Linked DNA regions of Homo sapiens. The protein of the gene in region 3 purifies or fractionates together with the protein of the main gene of each other region. This does not show direct contact. Each region holds a gene or a part of one and is shown on either strand. Other genes may lie near its edges. The genes, in order: NSMCE4A, FBXL4, ODAD3 and IFT88.

What was found.
Region 1: the proteins of ODAD3 (region 3) and NSMCE4A purify together in Homo sapiens (affinity purification with mass spectrometry; 3 studies listed by BioGRID and IntAct, with this or other methods). This does not show direct contact.
Region 2: the proteins of ODAD3 (region 3) and FBXL4 purify together in Homo sapiens (affinity purification with mass spectrometry; 3 studies listed by BioGRID and IntAct, with this or other methods). This does not show direct contact.
Region 4: the proteins of ODAD3 (region 3) and IFT88 purify together in Homo sapiens (affinity purification with mass spectrometry; 3 studies listed by BioGRID and IntAct, with this or other methods). This does not show direct contact.

Annotation. Positions count from the first base shown.
Region 1 is NC_000010.11:121,957,808-121,965,356, forward strand, and holds part of NSMCE4A (non-structural maintenance of chromosomes element 4 homolog A), read right to left. Parts: coding exon 7,479-7,549; intron 5,522-7,478; coding exon 5,431-5,521; intron 4,301-5,430; coding exon of another isoform or gene 4,194-4,300; exon of another isoform or gene 3,946-4,193; intron 3,711-3,945; coding exon 3,616-3,710; intron 2,600-3,615; coding exon 2,551-2,599; intron 2,412-2,550; coding exon of another isoform or gene 2,386-2,411; exon of another isoform or gene 1,792-2,385; intron 1,789-1,791; coding exon 1,694-1,788; intron 1,604-1,693; coding exon 1,529-1,603; 3' UTR 1,517-1,528; intron 1-1,516. UniProt on the Homo sapiens protein: Component of the SMC5-SMC6 complex, a complex involved in DNA double-strand breaks by homologous recombination. The complex may promote sister chromatid homologous recombination by recruiting the SMC1-SMC3 cohesin complex to double-strand breaks.
Region 2 is NC_000006.12:98,874,726-98,882,274, forward strand, and holds part of FBXL4 (F-box/LRR-repeat protein 4), read right to left. Parts: intron 5,900-7,549; coding exon 5,828-5,899; intron 1,003-5,827; coding exon 690-1,002; intron 1-689. UniProt on the Homo sapiens protein: Substrate-recognition component of the mitochondria-localized SCF-FBXL4 ubiquitin E3 ligase complex that plays a role in the restriction of mitophagy by controlling the degradation of BNIP3 and NIX mitophagy receptors.
Region 3 is NC_000019.10:11,431,573-11,439,038, reverse strand, and holds the start of ODAD3 (outer dynein arm-docking complex subunit 3), read left to right. Parts: upstream 1-3,917; 5' UTR 3,918-4,022; coding exon 4,023-4,266; intron 4,267-7,466. Other genes in the region: PRKCSH (glucosidase 2 subunit beta isoform 3 precursor), read right to left, coding at 915-972, 1,068-1,163, 2,534-2,650, 2,843-2,921. UniProt on the Homo sapiens protein: Component of the outer dynein arm-docking complex (ODA-DC) that mediates outer dynein arms (ODA) binding onto the doublet microtubule. Involved in mediating assembly of both ODAs and their axonemal docking complex onto ciliary microtubules.
Region 4 is NC_000013.11:20,640,030-20,647,578, reverse strand, and holds part of IFT88 (intraflagellar transport protein 88 homolog), read right to left. Parts: intron 6,290-7,549; coding exon 6,181-6,289; intron 4,125-6,180; coding exon 3,974-4,124; intron 2,737-3,973; coding exon 2,621-2,736; intron 1-2,620. UniProt on the Homo sapiens protein: Positively regulates primary cilium biogenesis. Also involved in autophagy since it is required for trafficking of ATG16L and the expansion of the autophagic compartment.

The DNA.
Region 1 (7,549 bases), on a different chromosome or scaffold from region 3:
TTACATTAAGTACAAAAAAGTTTATTTTAATGCTCAAAATCAGAAAATTTGAGCTAGAAAAAAAATTCTTAGCAATGATCTAGCTTGAAAATCTTTCCATTTTATAGATATATTTATAGATTAAAAAAAAATAAAGTTGAAGCCAGGCGTGGTGGCTCATGTCTGTAATCCCAGCACTTTGGGAGGCCGAGGCGGGCGGACCACAAGGTCAGGAGTTCAAGACCAGCCTGACCAACATGGTGAAATCCCGTCTCTACTAAAAATAGAAAAATTAGCTGGTCACTGTGGCAGGTGCCTATAATCCCAGCTACTCAGGAGGCTGAAGCAGGAGAATTGCTTGAACCGGGGAGGCAGAGATTACAGTGAACTGAGATCGTGCCACTGCACTCTAGCCTGGGGGTGACAGAGCAAGACTCTGTCTCAAAAAAAAAGAGAAGTTGGGTGAGATTAAGTGACTTGCCCAAGGTTTTAAAGTAAGGGGCAAAAATAAATAAATAAAGTAAGGGGCATAGCCGATAGAATCTAGGTCTTCTGATTCCCACCCACAACTGTCTGCACTACAAAATGTCAGATCATTATTAAGATTTCTTTCTAGAAATGTTACCCTTCATAAAAATGAAGAAGAATTCTTTCATAGCCTAATACAAATTTTAGAAATGCCAATTTACCAAGATTATTCTAAGGTAATTCTATCCTAATCCTCTTTTTCTGCTTTGTACTTATAAAATAAGCAAATCTAATGGGATGGTGAACAACAACATGGATGAGAGGATTCAATATTTCACTTATCTAATTTACCAGTTTGTTGGGGGAAAAGCAGCAGCTGGGTATGGTGACTCATACCTATAATCCCAGCACTTTGGGAAGCTGAGATGGGAGCATCCCTTGAGCCCAGGAGTTTGAGACCAGCCTGGGCAACATAGTGAGACCCCTTCCCTATTTTTTATTAAAAACAAAAACAAAAACAAAACCCACCAAACCAAGAACAATCCTGCACTGCTTCTTTCAGCTGCAAGTCTTTTTTTTGAGACAGAGTCTTGCTCTGTCTCCCAGGCTGGAGTGCAGTGGCACGATCTCAGCCACTGCAACCTCCACCTCCCGGGTTCAAGCAATTCTCCTGCCTCAGCCTCCTGAGTAGCTGGGATTACAGGTGCATGCCACCACGCCCAGCTAATTTTTGTATTTTTAGTAGAGATGGGGTTTTACCATGTTGGTCAGGCTGATCTCGAACTCCTGACCTCATGATCCGCTTGCCTTGGCCTCCCAAAGTGCTGGGATTACAGGCGTGAGCCACCACGCCTGGCCTCAGCTGCAAATCTTAACAGCACAAATTTAATCAATCCAGAGAAGGGAACGCAGAACCACTATCCCTTTCTCACCTGTTACACACAGTTCTAAGAATGGGGCACTACAGGGAGGCAAAAATTCAAATTTCACTGGAATGGGGAAAAGGGATACTTTGGATTGCCAAATGAACTTTAATAGAACTGTGTAGCCATCCCATTGAAAAGGTTACCTTCAGCTAGCATCAAGCACTTGGCTTCTGCTGCCTCTGACTTGGAGTAATCACAGGCTCTGAAATCTCAAAGGTCTTCACAATCTCCTGGCAGACAATAATGAACATTTAGGCACTGGGCTTACTGCAAGTGAAGGCAGAGTCAGAACTATGCAGGGGCAACAGGCAGAGCTTTACCTCCCAGTCACGGTAACTCAAAGCTATAATTCCTTGATTTCTAACTTGTGTGTTATGTTCAAATCCCTCATTTTCTTCATTAATACTAACAGGCTCTGTTTGAAAGACAAATTTTTCAAATTTATCAAAGGTTATTAAATCGGAACAGGTAATCTAAACGGAAACTGATGAATAATAGCAATGAAACCTGTATTGAAAAGATACTTATAATATTACATACTTTTTAGGATTTCATGCATTATGGAGCTGCTGTAGTATTATTACAGTAGCCAGTCATTCCATCTGTTTCCATTTCAAAAAACATGTAGTAGAGTAACACATTCCAGACATTTGAAAATCTGCATATCTATGTGTCAACCACAGAGCTAAGCCCTAGTGAGTCCAATAGGACATTGAGAACATTGAAAGTAGCAAGTAAGTGCGATGGAAATATTCACTCTCCACAGGAGACCTTAGGAGGACATGAGTAATGGAGAGTGTGAAATTATTCAGGTAAGAATGAAAGATTCATAGAACCTCAAAGAGAAAAGAAGGTGCCGGCATCTGACAAAACGTGATTAGAAAGAGGGATACTACAAAAATGACTGCAATCACCAACTTTCTAAATTAAGATCTGAGGGAAATTATATCATTTCTTTGTTAATATTTACAGCAGATGTTGAATCAATGATATAGATGAATCCATCAAAATTTTAGACGCTGGCCATGTTTTCAGTATCTTCAGGTAGTTGAGCAAGATACAATATTGTAAAAGTTAATCTACATTGAAAATTCATTTACATTTAGTAAAATACTTAAATTCTACTAACAAATATATTTTCTCTAAAACTAATTTTTCCAAACATAGTATCATTTACCTATTACTGGCAGTCGGTCTTGGTCAAGTCTTATTCTTGCAAAACCATCCTAAAACGAAAACATGATTTTAGGAGAAGACAAACATTTAAGACTCAAACCTATACGCACTAGATGGAAAAAATTACTCAGAAAATTCAGTATCTCAGAAAATCAAATTACACCATAGCAATAATAAGGTGATGATATAGATAAGACTTCCCTAGTATCTTTTATTTACACAGGGTATCTTTGGGTTTCTAATCAGCTCTTTCACCCAGACACAGCCTCCATCCTGAGAATCTCTTAAGTGAAACTCATCTTGTCTCTTTAACTGATTTATACATATTTTGGAATACTCCACATTTTATTCTGCATAATTCTGTCACTGGGACCACTGGCAAAATATGCCTTTGTTATTATTTCTGAGAAAATACGTTGGTAGACATAGGTTTTCTCTAAGGTTATAATCAAATTCATCTTACATGTGGGAATGCAACCTGAAGTAAGATTAAAGATAGTCTAAAGCAAATTTCCATGGTACATATCTGAGTAGAGTTTTAAAACCAATTTTGAAATAATTTCAGACTTAAAGGGCTATAAGACTACTATAAACACGTGGCATATATCCTTTACCCATATTCATCAGTCGTTAAAGTGTTAGTTACCACGTTTACTTTATCACTCTACATATTATTATTTATGAATGAAGTGAGAATGATAGGCGGCCTGCTTCTTTTCCCTAATCTTTCAGTGTGTATTTCTTGAGAACAAGGATATTATACAACATGACAACTATCAAATGCAGGAAATTTAACATTTATACCATACTGTTATCTAATCTAAAGTTCCATATTCAAATTTTTCCAATTCTTTCTCTAAATAATTTCTAAAACATAAAAGCAAGCATATAAAATTTTAGCTAGCTTCTTCTACCTAATATGCCAATTAATGTTTTGCTACAATGGGTCTGAAACATATACTGGCTAGTGTATACAGATACCTTTGCCAGCTCCCTTCTACAGCTTTTCTTATGTAGCCTTTTAAAAGCATATAAAAGCAATTAGAAAAATAATCTTTAATCTTACCCGTATAATGAAGGAAACATGAAAGATGTTTTCCACTGTACGGGGGAAAGAATGAGGATCAACCACAAAGTCAAAGAAGGACATTGGGGTATCAGCTATAGACAAAAAGAGAAAAAAAAATTGATTTTTGCTTGTCATTAATATCAGTACACTCTAGCGTTAGCCAGAGACAAAGAAAGGATGTGTACTCATTCCTGCTGCAGGAGTGCAAATCAATCCAACCCTTCTGGAGGCCAATTTGGCATCTCTACTAAAAACATGTATGCCCACTGACCTGGAAACCACCTCTAAGAAGCTGTGCTACAGAAATACAAGTGTAACTGCACAAAATTACATACTAAGATTTTTTACTTCAGCAATTTATACAAGAGTAAAATGCTATAAAGAACTTAATCATCCAGCTGGGCATGGCACTCACACCTGTAATCCCAGCACTTTGGGAGGCCGATGCTGGCAGATCACCTGAGGTCAGGGGTTCAAGACTAGCTTGGCCAACATGGCGAAACAATGTCTCTACTAAAAATACAGAAAAAAAATTAGCCAGATGTGGTGGCGCGTGCGCCTGTAATCCCAGCTACTCAGGAGGCTGAGGCAGGAGAATTGCTTGAATCCAGGAGGTGGAGGTTGCAGTGAGTTGAGATGGTGCCACTGCATTCCAGTCTGGGCGAAAGAGTGAGACTGTCTCCTAAAAAAAAAAAAAAAAAATAGGAACTTGGCCGGGCGCGGTGGCTCATGCCTGTAATCCCAGCACTTTGGGAGGCCGAGGTGGGTGGATCACAAGGTCAGGAGATCAAGACCATCCTGGCTAACACGGTGAAACCCAGGTTCTACTAAAAGTACAAAAGAATTAGCCAGGCGTGGTGGCGGGTGCCTGTAGTCCCAGCTACTTGGGAGGCTGAGGCAGGAGAATGGCGTGAACCCAGGAGGGAGAGGTTGCAGTGAGCCAAGATCGCGCCACTGCACTCCAGCCTGGGCGACAGAGCGAGACTCTGTCTCAAAAAAAAAAAAAAGGAACTTAATCATCCATTAATGGAGGATCTGTTAAATATATTTACAGTACAGCCATATAATGGGAATCAGTGAACAAAACAAGGGAGATCTATATGAAATGATGTGGAAGAATGTCCACATGGAAAAGTCACGTAGCAGAAGAATGTGCATATTATGATTAGCTTGGAAAAAAAGAAAAAAACAAACTTTTTTTTTTCAGATGTAGTTTCGCTCTTGTTGCCCAGGCTAGAGTGCAATGGCGTGATCTTGGCTCACCGCAACCTCTGTCTCCCGGGTTCAAGCGATTCTCCTGCCTCAGCCTCCCAAGTAGCTGGGATTACAGGAATGCACTACCACACCCGGTTAATTTTGTATTTTTAGTAGAGATGAGGTTTCTCCATGTTGGTCAGGCGGGTATCGAACTCCCAACCTCAGCCTCCCAAAGTGCTGGGATTACAGGTGTGAGCCACCACGCCCGGCCAAAACAAACTATTTAGGTAGGTGTGTATAAAACTGATAAAATAATCTGAAAATATACACATTACATTTTATAATGAGGGGAGGTGGAACAGCTACTTTTGACATTTCTCACTTGAATGGCATATTTCATTTTGTAACAAAAAAAATCCCCATCTTTTAAAGATAAAAATGAAAACGTTAACTTCAAAGTTTTCACATGAAATTTCTAAAGGGGAGAAGAATCCTCATAAAATGCATATGTATTTATTCAAATATTACATACAGCTGAAATTGCCTTTTAAATACAAGTAACCTCAGTGAACAGATAAATACAAATTGCTCCACTTTGAATGGTGTTACACTTACGATCTTCTCGAAAATATGTCTGCAACAATCCCAAGATTCTTTCTACTTCTTTCTCTGTTGCTTCTTGATGAGATTCTTCCATTCTTCTTAACTGAAAAAAGTCATTATCAAGCTGACAGACCTACTTACTGGCCTATTAACGTTTTCTTCTCTCTTGCACACCCAAACTCCTTTTCTTCTCTCTTGCACACCCGAACTCTTTTTTTTTTTTGAGACAGGGTCTTGCTTTGCCACCCAGGCTAGAGTGCAGTTGCATGATCTCGGCTCACTGTAACCTCAGACTCCTGTGCTCAAGGGATCCTACCACCTCAGCTTCTTGAGTAGCTGGCACTAGAAGCGTGCACCACTACACCTGGCTAATTTTTTTTTTTTTAATTCATTCTACCTTGTCTAAGACACCTGGCTAATTAAAAAAAATTTTTTTAGATATGGGGTCTTGCTGACCATCCTGGCTAACACGGTGAAACCCCATCTCTACTAAAAATACAAAAACTTAGCCAGGTGTGGTGACAGGCGCCTGTACTCCCAGCTACTCAGGAGGCTGAGGCAGGAGAATGGCATGAACCCGGGAGGCGGAGCTTGCAGTGAGCCGACATCGCGCCTGTAATCCCTGCGCTGTAGGAGGCTGAGGCAGGTGGATCACAAGGTCAGGAGTTCGAGACCAGCCTGGCCATTATGGTGAAACCGTCTCTATTAAAAAACACCAAAATTAGCCGGGCATGGTGGTGCCTGCCTGTAATCCCAGCTACTTGGGAGGCTGAGGCAGGAGAATGGCTTGAACCCAGCAGGCGGAGGTTGCAGTGAGCCGAGATCGCGCCACTGCACTCCAGCCCGGGTGATAGGGCAAGACTCTGTCTCAAAAAAAATTATGGTTTAAAAAAAAACAGATTTTCTGGTTTCAGTAACTTTTTTTTTTTTTTTTTGAGATGGAGTCTTGCTCTGTGGCCCAGGCTGGAGTGCAGTGGTGCCATCTCGGCTCACTGCAACCTCCGCTTCCCAGGTTCAAGCAATTCTCCTACCTCAGCCTCCAGAGTAGCTGGGATTAGAGGCACCCACCACCACATCTGGCTAATTTTTTGTACTTTTTAGTAGAGACAGGGTTTCACCATGTTGGCCAGGCTGGTTTCTAACTCCTGACCTCAGGTGGATCTGCCCGCCTTGGCCTCCCAAAGTGCTGGGATTACAGGCGTAAGCCACCACACTCGGGCAACCTTTGTTTTTTTTGAGACGGACTCTCGCTCTGTCGCCCAGGCTGGAGTACAGTGGCATGATCTCGGCTCAGTGCAACCTCTGCCTCCTAGATTCCTAATTCTCCTGCGTCAGCCTCCCGAATAGCCCGGACTACAGGCACCTGCCACCATACCTAGCTAATTTCTGTATTTTTAGTAGAGACGGGGTTTCCCCGTATTGGCCGGGCTGGTCTCGAACTCCTGACCTTGTGATCTGCCCGCCTCGGCCTCCCAAAGTGCTGGGATTACAGGCGTAAGCCACTGTGCCTGGCCTCAGTAACATTTTCATATCAATTTCTTAATAGAATAGTAACATTACCAGATTAACCATTTTCAGGTTGAACATAAAATAGCAAAATACAAAAGGGCGGTTTAGAAACAGTGGTTCTCGAGTGGGTGTGACTTTCCCCCCACCTCCCCAGGGAACATTTGTTGTCACATGTAGACATTTTTGGTTGTCACAACTCAGGGGTCGGGGGGGCTATTAGCATATAACAGGTAGAGGCTGGGGATGCCGCTAAGCATCCTACAATGCGCAGGACAGCTCCCCAAACCAACATTATCCAGCCGTAAATGTTGACAGTGCTGAGGTTGACCCTGGCTTCGGAGAACTGATCAAAACTAGAGAAATGAGTTAAAACAAAGACAAGCAGCCAATCCAATAAAATGCTTAAAGGCTTAAATAAAATGATTATTTAAGTGACAAAACCTGGCTCCAGACCCGCACACTTAGAAAAAATGGCCAAATTGCATGCACATTATTTTAACAGCTATTTTAACTTTAATGTGTTTTTTTAAAAGCAACATTTTAAAACAAACCTGGGCAGGCATTGCCCTCTCCTCTTGTATCACAGGAACTTTTCTTGGACGATCAACTCGTGGCTTTGGCA
Region 2 (7,549 bases), on a different chromosome or scaffold from region 3:
AGACTTTCCTATTTCTGTCACCCCAGTTCAAAATGGTTTTCACCATGCATTTGATGTAAAATGTGCAAGTGCGATATGACTTCACAAAGTATCAATTGTGTGGACAATGATAACTACTGTGACACTGCTAGCACCCCTGGCTAAAAGTAAGAAGCAACAAAATTACACAGGGTTCCTTTCTGATGAATGCAGCAAGGATTCAAGAAATCCCAGAGCTGGAAAAGATTTTCAATAGATCTGCCTGGGGTAGAACTATTCCTAAACGCTAGAATTATCAGGGATAAAGATTTCACGATATTCCTTAATCAAGAATTTTAATTAAGAAACTTAAAAAAAACTAGCTTGAATTCATTATACAAATGAATTAATTTCTTCTCTCCTTAATAAAAATAGAGAGCGCAGCTCATGTAAATTCTCACTCTTACAAGTAGACCAAGAATTAATGGTTATAGTTTTTTACAGTTTCAACTATAAAATTGTTATTGTCCTCACTATTTTATTAAAGTACATATATAATTATTCCCTATATTAACTGATCTATCTTGCATTTCCTATCAAACCAAGCCATCTTATCAGGATAAAATTTTTATTGTATCCAAAAATTTTCTTTTTCCTAACAAAAAGTCTGAGATTGGCTTTTCTGTCAAGGAAACAGACATTTAAAACAAATTTATATATTGTAACCTTACCTAATATGTCCAGCTGCTGTAACCTGGTACAATTACATGCCAATTCATCAATGTCTGTGTCACACACAGATCTATTAGCTGTAAGAAAGAGTTTTTGCAAGTTTGGGAGCTGGTGTGCCAGTCTGGTGAAGCACCCGGTGCTGCTCTGCAGAGTTGGGCACCAGCCAAGGTCAAGCTCCTCCAGTAGTGGACACCCAGAAGCCAGTTCTGCTATTCCATTCTCAGTAATATTCTTACATCTCCACAGATCCAGGGTCCGGAGTTTTTTACACTTGGCTCCTATCATGCTAGCTATCACATCATAGTCTTCAATCTGGAAATCAAATAATTCCAATCTTTTACATGTTATGCTCAGACATGCAAACTGTTTAGAGTAAGTCAGATTCTTAATTATAACCTATTGCTTTGCTTCCATGTAAACAAATCCACATCCTTGTTAATACAGATCTGCCCACTGACCTCACGGATCTGCCACTGTTTCATAAAACAGCCAGGAGTACTCATTTATTTAAAAATCCATTTAAGAGCACTCCAGACAGAAGATGTTAATGAATTAAATCCCAAAGCAGTCTATGTCTTCAGTCTCTCATGAAGAATTAAAGGATTATATGTTCTTCTTTTATGCCCACCATTTCAACCTTGCTGCTGCTACTCATTGACAGCACCTACTTTCCTCCGTTTTATATATGGCTAATATACTTTGGCAAGTATATATGATCTCCCTGATGTGTATCTGGTAGGCTCTAAAACACTATGTGGAAATGCTGATAATACTAATAAGGATACTAGTTTTGGCTTAAATGAGGCATTTGGGGACTGCATATACAACATGAAAATAATTTAGATTACAATATGTTAATCAACTGTCAGTTATTGGAGGTGTCCAGTGCTTACCTCATGATTACAGGACAAGACTCTACTAATCAAGGATTAAACATTTCAGTTATTGGGCTTTACATGCTTTAATAATGTTTCTTTAAATAGGTTATTTTAAGAGGTTCATTTGATTTTGCTAAAATCAGATATTAAAATTATCACAAGGAAAATTATCAAAAGGAAACAAAATAGTAAACAATTACAATGATTATTTCTTTTTGTTCTTTTGTTTAATTGTATTTTCAACAAACATCTACGCACCACTCCAGATGCTAGGACCAGCAGTAAACTGAAAAAAGGAGACACTGTCCATATTTTTAGGAAAGACACACAGACTAATTAAGGAAAAAATACATTCAAAGAGTGACATATAGTGGGAAAATAATAAAACAGAGTGATGTGAGAGTGATCAGAGTGTCACGGGTTGAGGGAAGAGGTGGTAATTGCTGAAATCTCCAGGAATGAGGTTGATGCATTCGAGGAACAAAAATGAGATCCATACAGTCCAAGGGTGGTGAGGGAGAGGACGGGCTATGGAGGGCAGAGTCACGCAGTGGCCAGGACATTTAGACCATGAAGGAGTTAGATTTTTCTTTCAAGTACTAAGGAAGTCAATGGAGGGTTCTAAGCAAAGGAGTGACATATTATTATTTACATAAAAACTGACACAAAACCACCTCTGGCTTCTGTCTGGAGGATGGGCCTATAGTGGGGAGGAACGGAGAAGGAAGCTCATTGAAGAGGTCTGCAACAGTGTAAAGGACAGATGACAGGGACTTGGATTAAGGTGGCAATGATGGAATGAAGAAATCCGACAGATTTGGGGCTGCATTTTTGAGTTAGAACCAAAGGCTGACAGATTAGATATAGAGGTAATGATTTCTAAGGTTCTGGATGTCAGTGTATGTATGGTGGAATCATGCGGAAGTCTATGAGAAACAGGTTTGGGGGAACATATCTCCTTACGTGAGTATACCTGAACAATACAAAACTGTGGGTTTGATAATTAGGGCAGCCAATTAGCTTACTTAGAAAAAAAAAATTTAAAAACTTTATGAAACCTATGATTCTGACTGTGCCCAATTTGTGCCTGGGCAATCTCAGCAGCATTTGAACAAATTCTCTACTAGCATAGAACACAGTGAGAAATTCCTTCAAGAGTTTTTTGTTGTTGTTGTGAAATTATCACAGCACTACTCATGCCAAATTCAGGGCTGGGAAAATAAAAATGAAACTAAATACTTTTTACTGGAACAAAGTCAACCTATCCCTCCTTTATTAACTATAATTCCTTCTAAATTTTAGATATTATGCAGGACTCTTTTTTCCCCAAAAATATTAGACATATTTATTTTCTTATTCATTATCTAATTTTAAAAATAGGGCAAATGTCACAGAGGAACTATCAGCAAGAATTTAAGTGACCTAACCAGGATCACATAATTAGTAGGAAACTTAAGAAAATAGCAGGTAGGTCTTAGGATTCTTTAATTTAGGCAACTTTAAATTACTTCAATCAGCATTATATAATAGTGGAATTTAAACTTTTTAAAGTCATTTTTAGAAGTAAAAAGAAATAGATAAAATTTGTCTCTTTCCCAATCAAGAGGAAAAATAAATATTTCTAAGTAGTCCTAAAAACATGTTTACGGCATTGACTAGAATATTCAGGTTTATTACAGGTGAGACACTGCTCCTCAGAAGTTCTTGTCACTGCAAATCTGTCTAACTGGCACTTGTGGCACAAAGATTAGTTTCAGAAAAAAAGTGACACAACTAATTTAGTATCTACATTAAACTCACTACAGAGAAAGTATGCCATGAGGTGAATACTCAGCGAAGGTATATAATAGATCACAATCACCATGGGAAAGTCAGCACAGTGCTCTATGTATGTATACTGTGAACAGTTGCTTCATAAATATCACAAATCTAAACATTGCTATTATATTGACAGTCAACAATAAAATGTAATATGGAAAATGTAATATAGAAAAATGAGTTCAGTAGTCAGGCAAGGTTTGAAAACACTGGTTTTAGCAAAGGTAAACAGTTTCTTTGTTGTAGCACACACCATTGTAAAACTCTAAGACCAGGCTGGAGTGCGGTGGTATAACCATAGCTCACTGCAGCCTCAAACTCCTGGGCTCAAGCAATCCTCCTACATCAGCCTCCAGAGTAGTTGGGACTATAGGTTTGAGCAACCATACCTGGCTTCCTAATTTCATTAGGAATCTCCACTCCACCCCCAAATACACAGCCTTTAAAATTGATTATCCTTTAGAGGTAATTTTCCATGGGTCAACTCTGGAAAATGCTAACTTAAAATAATACAATTTCAATTATAAGCATATATATAATTCCAACAGTAAAGAGTCTATGGCCAGAGGCTTGATTTTCTAAGGAATGTTGCTCCAGTTTAAGGGGAGGTAAATAACAAGCAGAATAAGGTACATCTAAGCAAAGTTAAATGGTCCTTACCAATCTAAAGAGAGCAGGCTAGCAATAAGGAAGATCCAAGTGGCAGTAACTGGCTGGTTTGTTGTGACAGAAACTGCCATCAAATGTCATCGGGTCCATCAAGAAGAGTCACTGAAGAGACCCACAGAAGCCTATCAAATGGCTTACTATGGAAAGAATTTGACCAGAAGTGAGGAAAATCTAGTGGGCTCCCAAGACTGTTTCTAGAGACTGAGATGGCCTGAGCCCATACTTAGGGTTTAATAAGACCTAACCACAAGATTTTAAAGACCATGGGGACACAGAGATAAATATGTCATCAAAAGAGGCCTACTTAGTCTACACTGCCAAATCTTGAGGCATTTCTGAAGCCACACTGAGCTCTAAGAGGTGTTCAAATGGTACTCATTTTAGGTCAGGGACCCTGTCTATTGACTCTAATAAAATATTTCTCAAAATGTAAGGTTACTTAAAGCAAATACTCCCTAGCATACCAGAAGTTTTCTAGAATCTTGCAATCATTTTGCTAATTCAAGTCTTCCTACTAAGTGAATGCAAGGCAGAAATGGAATGGTCTGGGGATCTCCTAAACCTACATTGTTTTAGGGAACAGGGGATGAAGTGAGGAGGAATGAATTCTTCCAGTCAGTTACACTGGAAGATTCACTTACGGTATGTGTGCACACAAACACACACATGCACACCTTCTCCACACAAGATTTCTATTGTCCTTTATATCTCAGTATTATTTAAAAGCTATATAATTATGTGGTTTAGATTAAAACATTTAACTCTTTCCATGAGCTCTTTCAAGGGCACATAAAATCGTATTTTAAATCTGGAAGGACTAGGCTGGGCGCAGTGGCTCACACCTGTAATCCCGGCAATTTGGGAGGCCGAGGCGGGCGGATCACAAGGTCAGGAGTTCAAGACCAGCCTACCCAATATGGTGAAACCCAAGACCAGCCTGCCCAATATGGTGAAACCCAAGACCAGCCTGACCAATAGGGTGAAACCCCATCTCTACTAAAAATACAAAAAAATTAGCCGGGCATAGTGGTACATCCCTGTAATCCCAGCTACTTGGGAGGTTGAGGCAGGAGAATTGCTTGAATCCGGGAGACGGAGATTGCAGTGAGTCAAGATCGCGCCGCTGCACTCCAGCCCGGGCAACAGAGCAAGACTCCATCTCAAAAAAAAAAAAAAAAAAAAAAAAATCTGGAAGGACTTTGAAGCTTATCTAGTCCAACAGTCCCTAGGCTTTTATATTTCACAGACCAGTAAAATTTCCACACACAAAAAAGAGTTCCAACATAGGGTGTTAATCTTTCTGTTTTGACCAGTAAGGACAGTAAAACAAACACAAAAACAAACAGATAAAATAAACCTATCTATTATCATTAAAATTTCAAGAAAAGTATCTCAGGATTTAAAAGCTAAAATGAGCTTAGTGAAAAACTTACTGAACTATCGGCATTTAGGTATGACTAACACCTTAGTTTGTGAAGAAACCTAGAGAGGTGATTAGCTTGTCGGAGACAACATCTGGCTTGAGGCAGAACTATACTCTATTCCACCACACTATACTTCTTTCCTTGCTCTCATGGATAAATAATGTCAGTGTTTCAAAGACATACTTTCCAATTTAAGAAAAATGTTTGAAAGCAAGGGACAAAGAAGAGAACCATAAATCTGAAAAACTGTGGGTGTGTGTGGGGTAGGGTGAGTCAGGATACATTTCACCCATAGGAAGAAAAAGAGAACAAGTAATTGAGTAGTATAAAGAATTCTCAAACACTTACCATGACACAACTGCCTAAACTGAGGTGCTGAAGCTCTGAACAGAAGTTCAAAATGCTGAGCAGTGCTGTTTGCTGCCATTAGGGACCACATCAGAGGCAAATATGGAAAGTGAATGAAAGTGAAACAAAGAGAAGAGGTCAATTAGACATTAAAGGCTGTCACTGCTTTTCCTGAAATGCAGCTCAAAAGCTAGGTTACAGAGTCCACAAATGCCATTTAATGAGTCCCCAGAGGCTCCACCATTGATTGGCTTGGAGTCAAGGTAATCATTACTAGTCTCCATGTAAGTAATCACTTTGTGTATGGTTTTGGATGCCCTAAAGATACCTATATTCCCTATGACCTCTCGGTTCATTTCCCAAAGGTAAGCAATTTGAAAGTCTGGCTACAATTGAACAACAAGACAAGCTAAACCACTCCTCCCTCCAAAAACAAAAACAAAAAGACAAAAAACCCGCAGCAGGCTGGTGACACTCCTGAAGAATGGCTGCAGCTCTGACATTCACTGATCAGCTGCAGCTTGATGGAACTGCCAATAGAGTCACCCCAAATCAGGATTGAGCTGGTGACTTTAATGTCAAAGGATTCTCTTTGCTGACAAGGATACCAACAACCATTGAGCACCTGTCAGTAGCAACATGCTGACTGAAATATATATAATATGTACTTTCTAGTCATGTTCCTGCCATTTAAGCCCATCTATCCTGTGCAATGAAAATGGTCTCACCACTAAAGAAACCCAAAGACTGCTACATAATCATGGCACCCTAAAATATTTTTTTAAAAAAGTCTGCTATGAAAAATTGTGAAAAACAAAATAATGCAAAATATTCAAATTTCTAATTTTTCTTTTATCAATTAAGGAGAAAACTATTCAAACTTACATGGCAAAATATCTTATACATTTTTAAATATATTTAAAAATTAAGATATTATACAACTTCTGTAAAAATCTGTTCCAAGTGATCAGAAACTAAAAACTATCAGTTGAGGGAAAGGTGAAGAATGTGTCAATGAAAATGTAAAACATTTGGTCAAATCCCAGATAAAGATTCTCATTGAGAAAATAAAGTAATAAAATATTTCTCAAATGTAAGGTTACTTAAAGCAAAAATAATAATAGTTACAATAGGCCACAGAGGACTATTATACTTAAGTCTAATTATTTCATTATTGAGCATTTCTTTGAATTTAAACAAAAAAAGTTTATATTGATTTTATACTTAAGTTTCAACATAACAACATTTATAAAACAATCCCATGTAGCTCTCAGAATGTTAACATTAGAAAGGGTATATTAAGATAATTTAATTTTCAGGTTCTTCACAATACTTAGCCATGTTAACTAATTAACAGACAGGAACATAACATTAGGTTTGTTTTTTTTTTAATTACAGGACCATATCCATATTAAAAGGTTGTTTTATAAGATTTTCCCTTAAGTAAGATCCAGAGAATATTAGAATTTTTAGAAAGAATCTCATAAATTCTTGTTGGTAAGAAATTTTAAATTAAAAAATACACATACATAGAGATAAATACACACATACATATAATTCACACAACTTGTTTGGTAATTTATTTTTAAATTACTTACTATGAAGAATCTCAAATACACAAACAAGTATAGGTTCCAATATAACACCCATGTAGCCACCACTCAGTTTTGTCAACTCTTAACATTTTGACATTCTTTGCTTATCTGGCTACATTGTTGTATG
Region 3 (7,466 bases):
CTACTTGGGAGGCTGAGGTGTGAGAATTGCTTGAACCCGAAGGGCAGAGGTTGCAGTGAGCCAAGATCACGCCACTGCACTCCAGCCTGGGCGACAGAGTGAGACCCTGTCTCAAAAAATATAAATAAATAAAAATAAATCATCATGCCTATGAACTACAAAAGGATCAGCTGGCAGGAATTGAGAACAGCTGTTCCCCTAGATGCCACAATCCCCACCCCTCCGTATTGCCTCATACTTGGCCTCCTTCTGTTGTATGCTTTTTTTTTTTTTGCTTTTTTTTTGAGACGGAGTCTCACTCTGTTGCCCAGGCTGGATTGCAGTGGTGCGATCTCGGCTCACTGCAACCTCTGCCTCCCGTGTTCACGCCACTCACCTGCCTCAGCCCACCGAGTAGCTGGGACTACAGGCGCCCGCCACCACACCCAGCTAATTTTTTGTATTTTTAGTGAGACGGAGTTTCACCATGTCAGCCAGGATGGTCTCGATCTCCTGACCTCGTGATCCGCCTGCCTCAGCCTCCCAAAGTGCTGGGATTACAGGTGTGAGCCACCGCGCCTGGCCTCCTTCCGTTGTATACTTTACCTGCCTGTGGGTGTTTCGGTTTTCAGGACCTGCTGCAGAGCGTGACAATGGAAAGTTTAGAGTCCAAGTGCCGGCTCTGCTATCTCCTATGTGACCCTGGGGAAGTCATTTCCCTTTCTAAACTTGAGTTCCCCCATCTGTTGAATCGGGAAACAATCCTACCTGCTTCCAGACTAGAGGGAAAGGTGGGGATTAGGATTCACAAGGCACCTGGCACAGACAGAGAACCCGATACAGAAAAGCAGAAGAGAGAGTGGGCCCGATTCACTGGGTGGAGCCAGGCAAAGTCTTGGGGTGGGGTGATGGGAGGGGTACTGTCACCCACGTACTTGCAGGTGTTCTCACAGATGACGCCGCTGTTGTACTCGTCTGTTCCATCGCAGCAGTCTGTGGCAGAGGCAGAAGCCAAGATCAGACCTGGCAGTGCCTCCTCCCTCCCTCCCTCTACCACCTTTCCAGAATCCTGGTGCATCTTCACTTACCACAAACACCATCGTTGACCCGGTTGGAGGGGATATACAGGGGCTTATAGCCAGTGTTGGTGCAGTGGAAGCTGCCATTAGGACAGGCAGCCGTGCCTGTGAGGAAGAAGGGAGGGAAGGTTTTCGGAGTCAGCTCAGGGACAGACATGTCCCATCCATCCACAGATAAGAGCCCCTGACCCACACTGCACACAGCACAAGAAAGGAAAGGAAACCAAAGGAAGGAAAGAGTTGTACACTGCACAGCCAGGGCTCGAAATAAAGCTCTCCAGTGCCGCCTCCTGCCTCTTCTCACTGAGGCCCTTCAAAACAGGGTCTCCACCTGGCACGGGGGCTCACACCTGTAATCCCAGCACTTTGGGAGGCCGAGGCGGGTGGGTCACCTGAGGTGATGAGTTTGAGACCAGCCTGGCCAACACGATGAAACTCCATCTCTACTAAAAATACGAAAAATTAGCCGGATGTGGTGGCATGTGCCTGTAATCCCAGCTACTCAGGAGGCTGAGGCAGGAGAATCGCTTGAACCCGGGAGGTGGAGACTGCAGTGAGCCAAGATCATGCCACTGCACTCCAGCCTGGGCGATAAGAGTGAAACTCCATCTCAAAAAAAAAAATTAAAAACAAAACAAAACAAGGCCAGGTACGGTGGCTCACGCCTGTAATCCCAACACTTTGGGAGGCCGAGGCGGGTGGATCACAAGGTGACGAGATCGAGACCATCCTGGCTAACACAGTGAAACCCTGTATCTACTAAAAATACAAAAAAAAACTAGCTGGGCGTGGTGGTGGGTGCCTGTAGTCCCAGCTACTCAGGAGGCTGAGGCAGGAGAACGGTGTGAACCCGGGAGGCGGAGCTTGCAGTGAGCCGAGATGGCGCCACTGCACTCCAGCCTGGGAAACAGAGCAAGACTCCGTCTCAAAACAAAAACAAAACCAAAGACACGGTCTCATCCAGGCACGGTGGCTCACACCTGTAACCCCAGCACTTTGGGAGGCCAAGGCAGGAGGATGACTTGAGCCCAAGAGTTCCAGGCTGCAGTGAGCTACGATCATGCCACTGTACTCCAGCCTCAGCAACAAAGCAAGACCCTGTCTCTTCAAAACACACAAAAACAAAAAGCCAGGGTCTCCCTTCACCTCTGTCTCCTGCTGGATTGCTCTTGGCCCCACCCTGTCTCCCACTTCTAGGGGTTTGCCCGTGTTGACCCCTCCATCTGCAGCACCTTCGGGATTCAACTGAAACCTCACCTCCTTGGAGGAGCCTTCTCTGACCCCGAGGCTTGGGAGGAGGACGACTCTGGGCTCCTCCAGCTGCCCGGGGCCATAACACTGACCACTGACTTCTGAGCTTGTTTCTGCCCACTCAAAGGGGAGCCAGCAGAGGTAGTATCTTGGTCACACAGACAGGGCCTGGCACTGAGCAGTGTTCAATAAACATCTGATGGATGAACAGAGAAAAGGCTCACCTGGCTCGTCAGAGCCATCTTTGCAGTCGCAATAGTCATCGTTGACCTGATCAAATGGGATGGTGGCCGAACCGTCCAGGCAGGTGAAAGGCTTGGACTCATCGTAGAAGTGATGATCTGCGGGGTACAGGAAGCTCAGCCCAGGGCAGGTAAGCGCCTTCTCCACCAAATACCACCTCTGTCCTCCCATCCCCACCAGCGGAGCACTACCGGGAAACTGAGTCAAAAGGCTGTAAATGCCTATCCCTAAGGCCCAATGTTGGCCCCTCCCACCTCCAGCCTGGCGGGAGGGTGAACAGGAGGACTCACTGGTGAGGGAGACGCCCCGGGGCCTCTTGACCTCCACGGCCCAGCACATGGGTAGCAGCAGCAGCAGCGGCAACAGCATCTCACCAGACGCTCTGAGGCCCGAAACGGGTTCTGTGGGAGGAAGCCTACAGCGGGGAGATGCGCTGTGTCTTCACGCTGCAGGAAGAAAGCGGATCCCGGTCAGTGGGAGAGGGCTACTTCCAGCCAATTGGATTCCTCCATCGCTTCCAGGCAATGAGGCCTCACTTTGTTTCCGATATGGGGGCGAGGGGCAGCGATCTCCCCAATCCTGGCCAGTCTCACTTTGCTCAAATCAATGGCGAGGATCTCAAGATCTCAAAACCTCCGCTCCCTGTGCCCAATTGTGACCCAATTCCCGCCAACAGACCAAAGGGATTAACAGCCTCCGCCGTCCACACCCACACATGCACCCTCCGGTTGCCCCCTGTAAGAAACTGAGGTGCCCTCCCACCCGCTCGTTCACACCTACACGAGGCCGGAGCAAAGGTCAGTATCCACCGCACCCCTCTTGTCCAGCAGCCGCGGTTCCTGCTGCAGAAAGAAAGCGGAAATTTCTGGACCCCGTCACTTCCGGTCGTACGTTCCGCACCGGGAACGGAGACTCAGGGTCGCCATGTTGGGAGAGGCAGGAGTGGGGGCGGTGCCAGAGCCGAGACGGCCATCTTGGGCAGGACTGTGAAACCTTAGAGAGGATAGTTCTGAGGGCTAGCTCTTAATGGCGGCGCAGCGTACCTCCATCTTGGGAGTGGCGGCTTCTCAAGCCGGAAAGAAAGTTCCTGAAAAATGCCCGCGAACCCCCAGGGGCGGGATAAGGTTGGGGGAGGTAGGGAAACGGAATGAGCACGTGACCCCAAAGTGTCCAGACCCTCCGTCCTGCGGCGCGGCTCTACCCCGCCCACTGTTGGGACCGCCCCTCTATGCAGCCTCAGCCAATGAGAACGCAGTGTCAGCCACGGAACGCGGGTGATCTCCATGGAAACAGTGGAGAGAGACGGGGAGGCGGTTACCTGGCAACCGAGAGATGCGGAGCGCAACCACCTAGCGGTCGGAAAGTGCATTTTTCAGAGCCCTAGGAATCCGAGCTGACGGATCCCTGACAGGGGCGACTGACTCCTAGTTATCCCCCTAACCCCTAGGGGCCTTCAGCCCCAACCCCATCATGACATCTCCTCTGTGCAGGGCGGCCTCCGCCAACGCCCTGCCTCCTCAGGACCAGGCTTCGACGCCCTCTTCCAGGGTCAAGGGCAGGGAGGCTTCGGGCAAACCCAGCCACCTCCGAGGCAAGGGCACAGCCCAGGCGTGGACCCCAGGCCGTTCCAAGGGAGGATCCTTCCACAGAGGTGCAGGGAAGCCCTCTGTGCACTCTCAGGTGGCTGAGTTACATAAAAAGATACAACTGTTAGGTAAGATGGCTCCAGAGGGTACAGAGGGTCAGGGGTCAACAGTGCCCATCCAATCTTCATGGTGTGACAAAGGTATTTCTCCAGCATGAGTCTAGGTAAACCGTTTCTGGGCAAAAACTCATACTTAGTTCATGTTTTTCCTTCTCTGTCTCTTAAAACTTCTCATGGGTTCAGAACCGACTGAACTGTACTTCATACTTTCTTGTAATTTATTTTCTCTATTTTTTTTTTTTTTTTTGGCAGAATCTCACTCTGTTGCCAGGTGGGAGTGCAGTGGAACGATTTCGGCTCACTGCAACCTCCGCCTCCCGGGTTCAAGCGATTCTCCTGCCTCAGCCTCTTGAGTAGCTGGGACTACAGGCACACGCCACCACGCCTAACTAATTTTTGTATTTTTAGTACAGAGGGATTTCACCATATTGGCCAGGGTGGTCTCAATCTCTTGACCTCCCAAACTGCTGGGATTACAGGCGTGAGCCCGCCTCGGCCTCCCAAACTGCTGGGATTACAGGCGTGAGCCACTGCACCCGCGTTTTTTTTTGTTTTGTTTTTTGTTTTTTGAGACAGGGTCTTGCTCTGTCGCCTAGGCTGGAGAGCAGTGGCATGATCTCGGCTCACTGCAACCTCTGCCTCCAAGGTTCAAGCGATTCTCGAGCCTCAGCCTCCTGACTAGCTGGGACTATAGGTGCGTGCCACCACACCTAATTTTTATATTTTTAGTAGAGACTGGGTTTCACCATGTTGGCCAGGCTGGTCTCGAACTCCTGATCTCAAGTGATCCACGGCCTTGGCTCCCAAAGTGCTGGGATTACATGTGTGAGCCACCGCGCCCAGCCTTCTTTCTTTCTGACAGGGTCTTGCTCTGCTGTTGAGGCTGGAGTGTAGTGGTTGGATAACAGTTCACTGCAGACTTGACCTCCTAGGCTCAAGCGATCCTTCCACCTCAGCCTCCTGAGTAGCTGGGACTACAGGCATACACCACTGTGCTTGGCTAATTTTCTTACTTTTTGTAGAGATGGGGTCTCACTATGCTGCCCAGGCTGGTCTCAAACTCCTGGGCTCAAGCAATCCTTCCTCCTCAGCCTCCCAAAGTGCTGGGGTTACAGGCATGGGCCGCTGCACCTGGCCTGAGCATAGATTTTTAGAGCCAGATTTTCTGGGTTGGAATCCTGGCTCTGCATAATAGTTGTCCAACCTTGGGGGACTAAGAGTAACCTAATTGTTCTCAGTTTCTCGATGTGTGAAATGGGGATAGTAACAGTACAACATAGGTACCTGAAATGTGTAAAGTGCTTAGAACAGTGCCTGGCACATAGCAAAGTACCATAAGGTGTAAACCAGTGGTTCTTGTTGGAAAAGGGTTGGTTTGCCCCACAGGGGCCATTTGGCAATGTCCTAAGACATTGAGACCAGCATGGCCAACACGGTGAAACGCTGTCTCTACTAAAAATACAAAAAATTAGCCGGGCATGGTGGCATGGATGTCTGTTGTGGGTGTGTGTCTGCCACTGGCATCTAGTGGGCAGAGTTGAAGATGCTGCCCAACATTCTGCAAAACACAGGAGAGCACCCCACGGCAAATAATTATTCGGCCCAGTTGTTGGTCATCCTGAGGTTGCAGAATCCTTGTGTGTAAGCTATTATTATTGCTTTTGTTGATATTATTAAGAGGTAATCATGGCTGGGCGAGGTGGCTCACACCTGTAATCCCAGCACTTTGGGAGGCTGAGGTGGGCGGATCATTTGAGGTCAGGAGTTTGAGACCAGCCTGGCCAACATAGTGAAACCCCATCTCTACTAAAAGTACAAAAATTAGCCGGGCATGGTGGCGCACGCCTGTAATCCCAGCTACTTGGAAGGCTGAGGCAGGAGAGGGGCTTGAACCCAGGAGGTGGAGGTTGCGGTGAGCCAGGATTGCGCCACTGCACTCCAGCCTGGGTGACAGAGTGAGATTCCGTCTTAAAAAAAAAAAAGGGTAATCTTGCATGGTTGCTTGTGACCTTAAGCAGTTTAATCAGCCCAAGCCTCTGTCTTGTCATCTGTGCAAGGGGTATGATATGCGTATGCCATGGATACCTATTGGCACGTGATATATGGCATTCGGAAACCTCTTAGTCCAGCATCCAACACATAATAAATGCTCACAGTGAAGTACAGTTGACCGTTGAACACCATGTGTTCACATATATCATTCATCCTTTCAAGTTAAAAAAAATTGAGATGGGCAGGCCGGGCACAGTGGTTCATACCTGTAATCCCAGCACTTTGGGAGGCTGAGGCAGGAGGATTGCTAGAGGCCAGGAGTTCGAGACCAGCCTGGGCAACATAGTGAGATCCTTGACTCTACAAAAAATAAAGTAGCCAGATGTGGTGGCACATGCCTCTAGTCCTAGCTACTTGGGAGGCTGAGGCAGGAGGACTGCTTGAGCTCAGGAGGTTGAGGCTTCAGTGAGCAGTGATAGCACCACTGCACTTCATTCTGGGTGACAGAGCAAGACCCAGTCCCAAAAAAGAAAAGAAAAGAAAATACAACAGTCCTGGAATGCAAAACCTGAGTATACAGAGGGACAACTGTTTGTATCTGCAGGTTCCACAGGGCTGACTGTGGGACTTGAGTATGGAAGGATTTTGGGGTTTTTTGTTTTGTTTTGTTTTGTTTTTTGAGACAGAGTCTTGCTCTGTTGCCCAGGCTGGAGTGCAGTGGCAGGATCTCAGCTCAATGCAACCTCCACCTCCAGAGGTCAAGTAATTATTGTGCCTCAGCCTCCTGTAGCTGGGATTACAGGCACCCACCATCATGCCCGGCTAATTTTTTTTTTTTTTTTTTTTTGAGGCAGAGTCTCGCTCTGTCACCCAGGCTGGAGTGCAGTGGTGCGATCTCGGCTCACTGCAAGCTCTGCCTCCCAGGTTCACACCATTCTCCTGCCTCAGTCCCCTGAGTAGCTGGGACTACAGGTGCCTGCCACCATGCACGGCTAATTTTTTTTTTTTTTTGTATTTTTAGTAGAGGCGGGATTTCACTATGTTAGCCAGGATGGTCTCGATCTCCTGACCTCGTGATCCGCTCACTTTGGCCTCCCAAAGTGCTGGGATTATGGACGTGAGCCACCGTGCCCGGCCATGCCCAGCTAATTTTTGTATTTTTGTAGAGATGGGGTTTCACCATGTTGGCCAGGCTGATCTTGAACTCTTGACCTCAG
Region 4 (7,549 bases), on a different chromosome or scaffold from region 3:
GTAAAGAAAATAAAACAACAGTTTATGCTTAAACCAATTGCCAAAACATCATATTATTAAAAACCATAAAAATCTAAGAGATACAGCAAGGCAAGGAGTTTCTATGGTAAAGAAATTTAATTTAATTCAACTATATGCCAAGTTGACATGTAAAGAATATTTAAAGAATATGTAAAGAACTATGTGACATAAGAACTAATACTCTCACTTCTCAAAAAGCCTACATTTTTATTGTAGAGGTAGAACTTACAGAACAAATCAAAGCTTAGCATGTAAAAAAGAGAAAATGTGAAAAATTAAGATATATGGTATAGAAAACAAATGCTCAAAAGAGATGTAATATAATGAATGTATATTGAATAAGTTTCTGTCACTGAGAAGGAGATAACAGCAGGTGCAAGTGGAAGTAAGTTTATAGAAAAGTAGAGAGAAATGTTAGGAAGGTTTCTAAAAAAGGCTTCTATATTCTGGGAAACCGAGGCATAAAATACATAGGGGAATTGAAGAGATCAGAGAAACAGGAGGGAGAGAAATACTTAAGACTGATGAGCAGTGCTCATATCACACAGATTTGTGTAGCATCAATTCACCTGGTTACATAATTTACCTTTGACAGTATTTCACAGCCTGTGTAAAGGAATGGAATCAATGGCTGGAATAACCTAAGAACTGAAATCTCTTGGAATAAATGGGGTAGTAAAGCGAGAGAGAGAGAGAAAAAAAAAAACAGGAATGTTAGCAAGAAAGGGAAAAGATGTGACCAATTAAGCAATCTAGTATGGATAAGCTCAGAATTAAAGTCAGAAGGAGGCTGAGACTGCAAGATAAGGGGAAGGTCAAGAGGGGAGGTCTCAATATCACCAAAGAAAAATGCACTGGAAAATAGGGAGTATGGAAGTTGGAAAGGTAAGAGGTTATGTTCAGACAGCTGGACATTGTAACTTAAGATTTTATTGGTGTAGGCTGGGCGTGGTGTCTCACGCCTGTAATCCCAGCACTTTGGGAGGCTGAGGCGAATGGATCACTTGAGGTCAGGAGTTCAAGACCAGCCTCACCAACATGGTGAAACTCCGTTTCTACTAAAACAAAAACAAAAACAAAAACAAAAATTAGCCGGGTGCAGTGGCATGTGCCTGTAATCCCAGCTACTCTGGAGGCTGAGGCAGGAGAATCGCTTAAACCTGGGAAGCAGAGGTTGCAGTGAGCCGGGATCACGCCACTGCACTCCAGCCTGGGCGACAAAGCAAGACTCCGTCCTCTGTCTCAAAAAAAAAAAAAAAAAGATTTTATTGGTGTAAATGTGTTAGTGATAATCACAATCAGATGAGTCAGGTGACTGAACTACAGAGAGGGTAAAGATCAATGGAGTTAGGGAGGTCAAAACTTGTGGGACTAGAATAGTGATGGAAAGAAAAGGAAGAATATAAGCTAGACTAGGTAAGGTAAGGGACTGACTGTTAATCAACATCTGACATTTACAAATAGGAGTTAAAAATGGAACAGTGGCGGACTGAGCCTCAAAGAAGGAAGAGTGTTGCATGAGCTAATGGCTAATGTTAGAGTAGTATTAAGTGTAATTAAAAAGCTTACAGTGTATTACTGAAATAGCTTTAATCTTAAAGATATAATTAAACTAAAACTATCTCCTCATCCTTGGTAATTAATTTTATAATTCTCAAAAGAAATTTATGTGAAATAAATATCACAAAATGAATTGCCTAATAGAAATTCCAAACAGAAATCATTTCACTTATTAAGCATTTCTTTATCATTCAAATTATTCTAAGGGGCATTTGTTCTTAAAATTCAATATGGCCAAATACAAAGCAGAAGATGATGTATTCCAATTATTTTTGAATTGTTTTGAATCAGATATGTATAACACATTCTGATACGAACTTAAAGACACTGAAAACATTTTAATTTTTCATATATATTAATTATAAATTGAAACCAACAAAACTGTCTTGTATTAAGACTCTTTTAGAGATGAAACTTTGTCCTAGGACTGAGATAAGTCATTTTCTGATTGATAAAGGAACAATAATTGTTTGCTGAGGTGTAAGAAAAATACATAAAGAAAAGTATCTTAAAGAGGATATTTAAAAAATTCTATGCAAAGGGAAATATATTTATCACAATAAAGACCAAGTAAAATGGAATAAAATATAAGAAAATAAAAATAATTTGGCTGGGCGCGGTGGCTCATGCCTGTAATCCCAGCACTTTGGGAGGCTGAGGCAGGTGGATCACCTGAGGTCAGGAGTTCGAGACCAGCCTGGCCAACATGGTGTAACCCTGTCTTTACTTAAATACAAAAAATTAGCCAGGCATGGTGGTGCGTGACTGTAATCCCAGCTACTCGGGAGGCTGAGGCAGGAGAATCGCTTGAACCTGGGAGGCGGAGGTTGCAGTGAGCCGAGATCACGCCATTGCACTTCAACCTGGGCAACAAGAGCGAAACTCCGTCTCAAACAAACAACAAACAAACAAAAATAATTTATGAATGTCCATCAACATCTGTTCTTGAATTTACTAGGTCTATCAGATACTAATTCTAGGGATTAAAAAAACTCAAGACATGACATTAACTAAACATAAAATCCTAATGATTACTTACTGTATAAGAGAAGCTCTTTCAAAGTACTGAATAGCTTTTTCCCAAAATTGGGTGTCAATGTAATAGGCTCCAAGCCACTCAATGACTTCAATATTACAAGGAAAATACCTATATGACTGTAAAACAAATATGGAATGTAACAATACAACTTCAATGGCAACATATAATTTACTTCTTGAATACTTTACCTATTGAATAAATTTATCCAATATGGAATTTCTTAATAAAGGAGTATGAACTGTCCTAAGTACTTTGTAAATTCTGAAACTATATAATATTTAGAAAACCTAAGCTTTGCTTGACACACTTTTCAATTATCTATACTTTTGATATAACAATATATGAGCTGAGTCCAATTTAAATATTTAAAAGAATAAAAAAGAGATGCAAATCGTGCCTCAAGAGAAAAATGAACTGGTACTTCTTTTTATTATTAATATTATTAATTATTATTATTTTAAGACAGTCTCGCTCTGTCACCCAGCCTGGAGTGTAGTAAATGCGATCTTGGCTCACTACAACCTCTGCCTCCCAGGTTCAGGCAATTCTCGTGCCTTAGTCTCCTAAGTAGCTAGGATTACAGGCATGCCACAACCACATTTGGCTAATTTTTGTGTTTTTAGTAGAGAGGGGGTTTCCTCATGTTGGCCAGGCTGGTCACATACTCCTGGCCTCAAGTAATCTGCCTTCCTTGGCCTCCCAAAGTGCTGGGATTAAAGGTATGGGCCACCAGGACTGTCCTTTTATTATTATTTGTAGAGATGGGGTCTTGTTATGTTGCCTAGGCTGTTCTTCATCTCTTGGTCTTAAGCAATCCTCTCACTCTGGTCTCCCAAAGTGCTGGGATTATAGACGTGAGCCACCATGCCCAGCCCTATTTCATTTTTTCATTAAAACAAGTAAAAAACTAACTTCAGGCCTGGCGTGGTAGTAATCCCAGCACTTTGGGAGGCTGAGGCAGGCAGATCACCTGAGGTCAGGAGTTCGAGACTGGCCTGGCCAAGATGGCAAAACACCCCTCTACTAAAAATACAAAAATTAGCTGCACGTGGTGGCAGGCGCCTGTAATCCCAGCTACTCGGAAGGCTGAGGCAAGAGAATTGCTTAAACCCAGGAGGAGGAGGCTGCAGTGAGCCGAGACTGCACCACTGTGCAGCAGCCTGGGCGACAGAGCAAGACTCTATCTCAAAACAAAACAAAACAAAAACTAACTTCATTTTCCAAGAATGCTTTATTTTAAATAAATCATTTTAAAACTGGTAAGATCTTCTAAAATTTTAAAGCCTTGCTGCCTTCTTTATAACAATTCATAAAATGCTAAAACACAGAAGGAAATTAAGATAACACACCTACCTCATAGTAATATTGAAATGCTTGAGATTTATCTCCTTCACGATCATATAATTCTCCTAGCTTAGATAAAACTTGAGGATCGGTTGGAATAACACTGACCACCTGCATTAGCCATTCAATAGCTTGACTGGGATTTTCCATTAATTCATATCTTATGCAATGTCAGTTAAGGAAAACATGTTTTCTAAATTCATTAAGCAATAAGCAAACTTAAAAAACATTACAGTAACAATATTTCTTAGCCTACAGTAATGTGCTATTGTATACTGTTTCCTCTGGATATCTCAGGGGTGGAGATGGAATGCAGCAGTACTGTGGAGGTAACACTCTTGCTCCCTATGTATATAGCCTGCTTTCCCTTTTCCTCCATTACTATCCACTAAGATCAACTCCCAAATTTCTGGTAGAATTATTCAAAGTATTGTCCAAAAATTGTCCTTAATAAAAATGTCCTGAATGTTGCATCCAGTTATTCTTTTTCTTAACATGTTCAGCATATTAAGGAAATTATTTCCATGTGTTTTTCCTGTGAGTTTTCCCTAATTAGATTATAAACCCAAGGACAGTGTTGTTTTTTTTTTTTTTTGTAGCTTCCTTTTAGTACCTACTAAGTCTTCGGTGTATATACAAATAATTTATTCATATCAGTACTTTTTGATTAATTACTATTTATTTTATACATATTAGATATCTCAGTGAAATGAAAATATTCCAATTCAAAGTTTATTGAAAAAGAAGCATTGTTTTCAATGGTGACAAGAGTGACACCAGAAGATCTACTGTTTTTAACGATGACAAGTGTGATACCACAAGAAAAAAAAAAAAGAAAATGTACTCAAACAGTCTCAAATACATCAGTTGCTTGACTGGATCCAAGCTGATCATGAACTGGGTGGTAAAAGATAATGACACTGGCAGTTTCAGAGAAATTAAATGAACAAAACAGAACAAAAAGACTAACAGGAGTAACTATGATGCTATCTGCTCTAAAACTAATTTTTTTTTGAGATAGTCTAGCTCTGCACCTAGGCTGGAGTACAGTGGCACTATCTTGGCTCACTGCAACCTCTGCCTCCCAGGTTCAAGTGATTCTCCTGCCTCAGCCTCGGGAGTAACTGGGATTACAGGTGCCTGCCACAACACCCGGCTAATTTTTGTATTTTTAGTAGAGATGGGGTTTCACCATGATGGCCAGGCTGGTCTCGAACTCCTGACTTCAAATGATCCGCCTGCCTTGGCCTCCCAAAGTGCTGGGATTACAGGTGTGAGCTACTGTGCCTGGCCTAAAACTAAAATTTTTCAATAAAATTCTTTATCAAAAGTACAGCAGATAGTACTTAAAATTATTAATGGTACACCTCACAACATATAAAATTTTCTAAACATATTTGTATAAAATTTAAACCAAGATAACAGTAAGTTGAAAATCTACCTAAGATGTTTAACTCTTCCCAATGTTGTGGCCAAAGCTTACCAAAATAAGGAGAGAAATTAAAAGTGCTTTTCAAATAGCATGAAAAGCATTAAAAACATTAACACATTTCTGCTTTTCTAACCAAGAGCAGGGCTTATTAAGAAAGCTAAGTGTTGTGGAAGAAACTGATATTAGCGCAACATTTTGTAGTTCTACATTCCCCTGAGTTTGAAACATAATACTGATACACATAGTATACATTCAATAAATGACTATTAAATGAACAGAATGAATGAGTTCATATGAAGAATTACATAATTTTAGAGGGTAACAGTCTTTGGAGACCTCATTATATCTACAGGCCAGCTAAAAAAGTAAGAAAAATTATCCAAATTCAATCAATAGTAATCAGTAATAAACAGTATTTTATTTAGTAAGTTAGTGCTTCAATGATACCCTACAAGCTTCAGAATTAATACAACGTTCTAAAGCACCAAATTGACTTTCAATGAATGGCTTATATGTACCGAAAATGTCCTAATTACTTCAGTTATTTTCAAAATTTAATAAATAATAGTTTTAACCATTAATTCCTCTTTCGATGCAAACTACATCTTAAAATAGGATTACTCAAATGATATTTATCACACAATAATCTGCCAGATTATCCTCATCACTTACTTCAAATATTATCCTCATCAATTACTTCATTAGTTAAACTTATTTAATAATTGATCTTCAATCACCAATTGAGAGAATTAATAACTGTCCCTAAGGTTTTCAAATAAGATACATATTTGCTATCTGGTAAAGAACTTCGGCACTGTTTCGTAGGATTGCGTGAAGTTTCAGGAAACAGTCCAAAGCCTCATCTAGCCGATTTAGTTTCTCATAGGTAAGGCCTTAAAAAAAGAAGAAAAAAAAGAAAATCTATAAGTATCATTATTGGTATTAATTTATTTAACATAACAGAATAAATCTCAAAATATATGAAAATATTTATCCAGAAGAGAAAATGAAGATGAACTCAGGTTTTTGTTTTTTGATACAGGGTCTCACTCCTGCTGCCCACACTGGAGTGTAGTGGCACAAACATGGCTCACAGCAGCCTCGACCTCCCAGGCTCAGGTGATTCTCCCACCTCAGCCTCTCAAGTAGCTAGGATTATATGCACGTGCTACCACGCCCAGCTAATTTTTTGTATTTTTAGTAGAGACGGGATTTTGCCATGTTGCTCAGGCTGGTCTGGAACTCCTGGCCTCAAGCGATCCACCTGCCTCAGCCTCCCAAAGTACTGGGATTACAGGTATGAGCCACCACACCCGGCCAACTGAGGATTTTTTTAAAGAATAATGTTAGGGTGGGGATTCTCCACTGGCAGACACCAAAAGATGCTACAAAGCTTCAGTGATTTTAAAAGTGTGGTAGGGGGCAGGAATAGACAAACAGACCAATAGAACAGAATAAACAGTTCAGAAATGCACTCAACTATAGAGTTTAGTTAAAGACATTTAAAATCAGTGGGGAGGAAAGTGCTAGTAATAAGTGGTGCCAGAACAACTGACTATACATTAATTTGTATTTATTTATTTATTTATTTATTTATTTATTTATTTATTTTGAGACGGAGTCGCTCTGTCGCCCAGGCTGGAGTGCAGTGGCACAATCTCGGCTCACTGCAAGCTCCGCCTCCTGGGTTCATGCCATTCTCCTGCCTCAGCCTCCTGAGTAGCTGGGACTACAGGCGCCCGCCATCACGCCTGGCTAATTTTTTATATTTTTAGTAGAGACGGGGTTTCACTGTGTTAGCCAGGATGGTCTCGATCTCCTGACCTCATGATCCGCCTGCCTTGGCCCTCCCAAAGTGCTGGGATTACAGGCATGAGCCACCACACCTGGCCATTAATTTTTTTAAATGTAGATTCTTATTTCATAAAAAATGAACTCAAAATTTTGAAACTCAACAGAAAAAACAAAGCTATAAGAAGAGTATGAAAAGAAAATACAGAAAAATGATTTATAATCTTGAGTTAAGAAGGGCTTCATAAAGCAATAAACAAATGAATAAAGCAATAACCACAATTATTTAAAAAGACAAATTTGGCCAGGCGTGGTGGCCCATGCCTGTAATCCCATCACTTTGGGAGGCTGAGGCAGGTGGA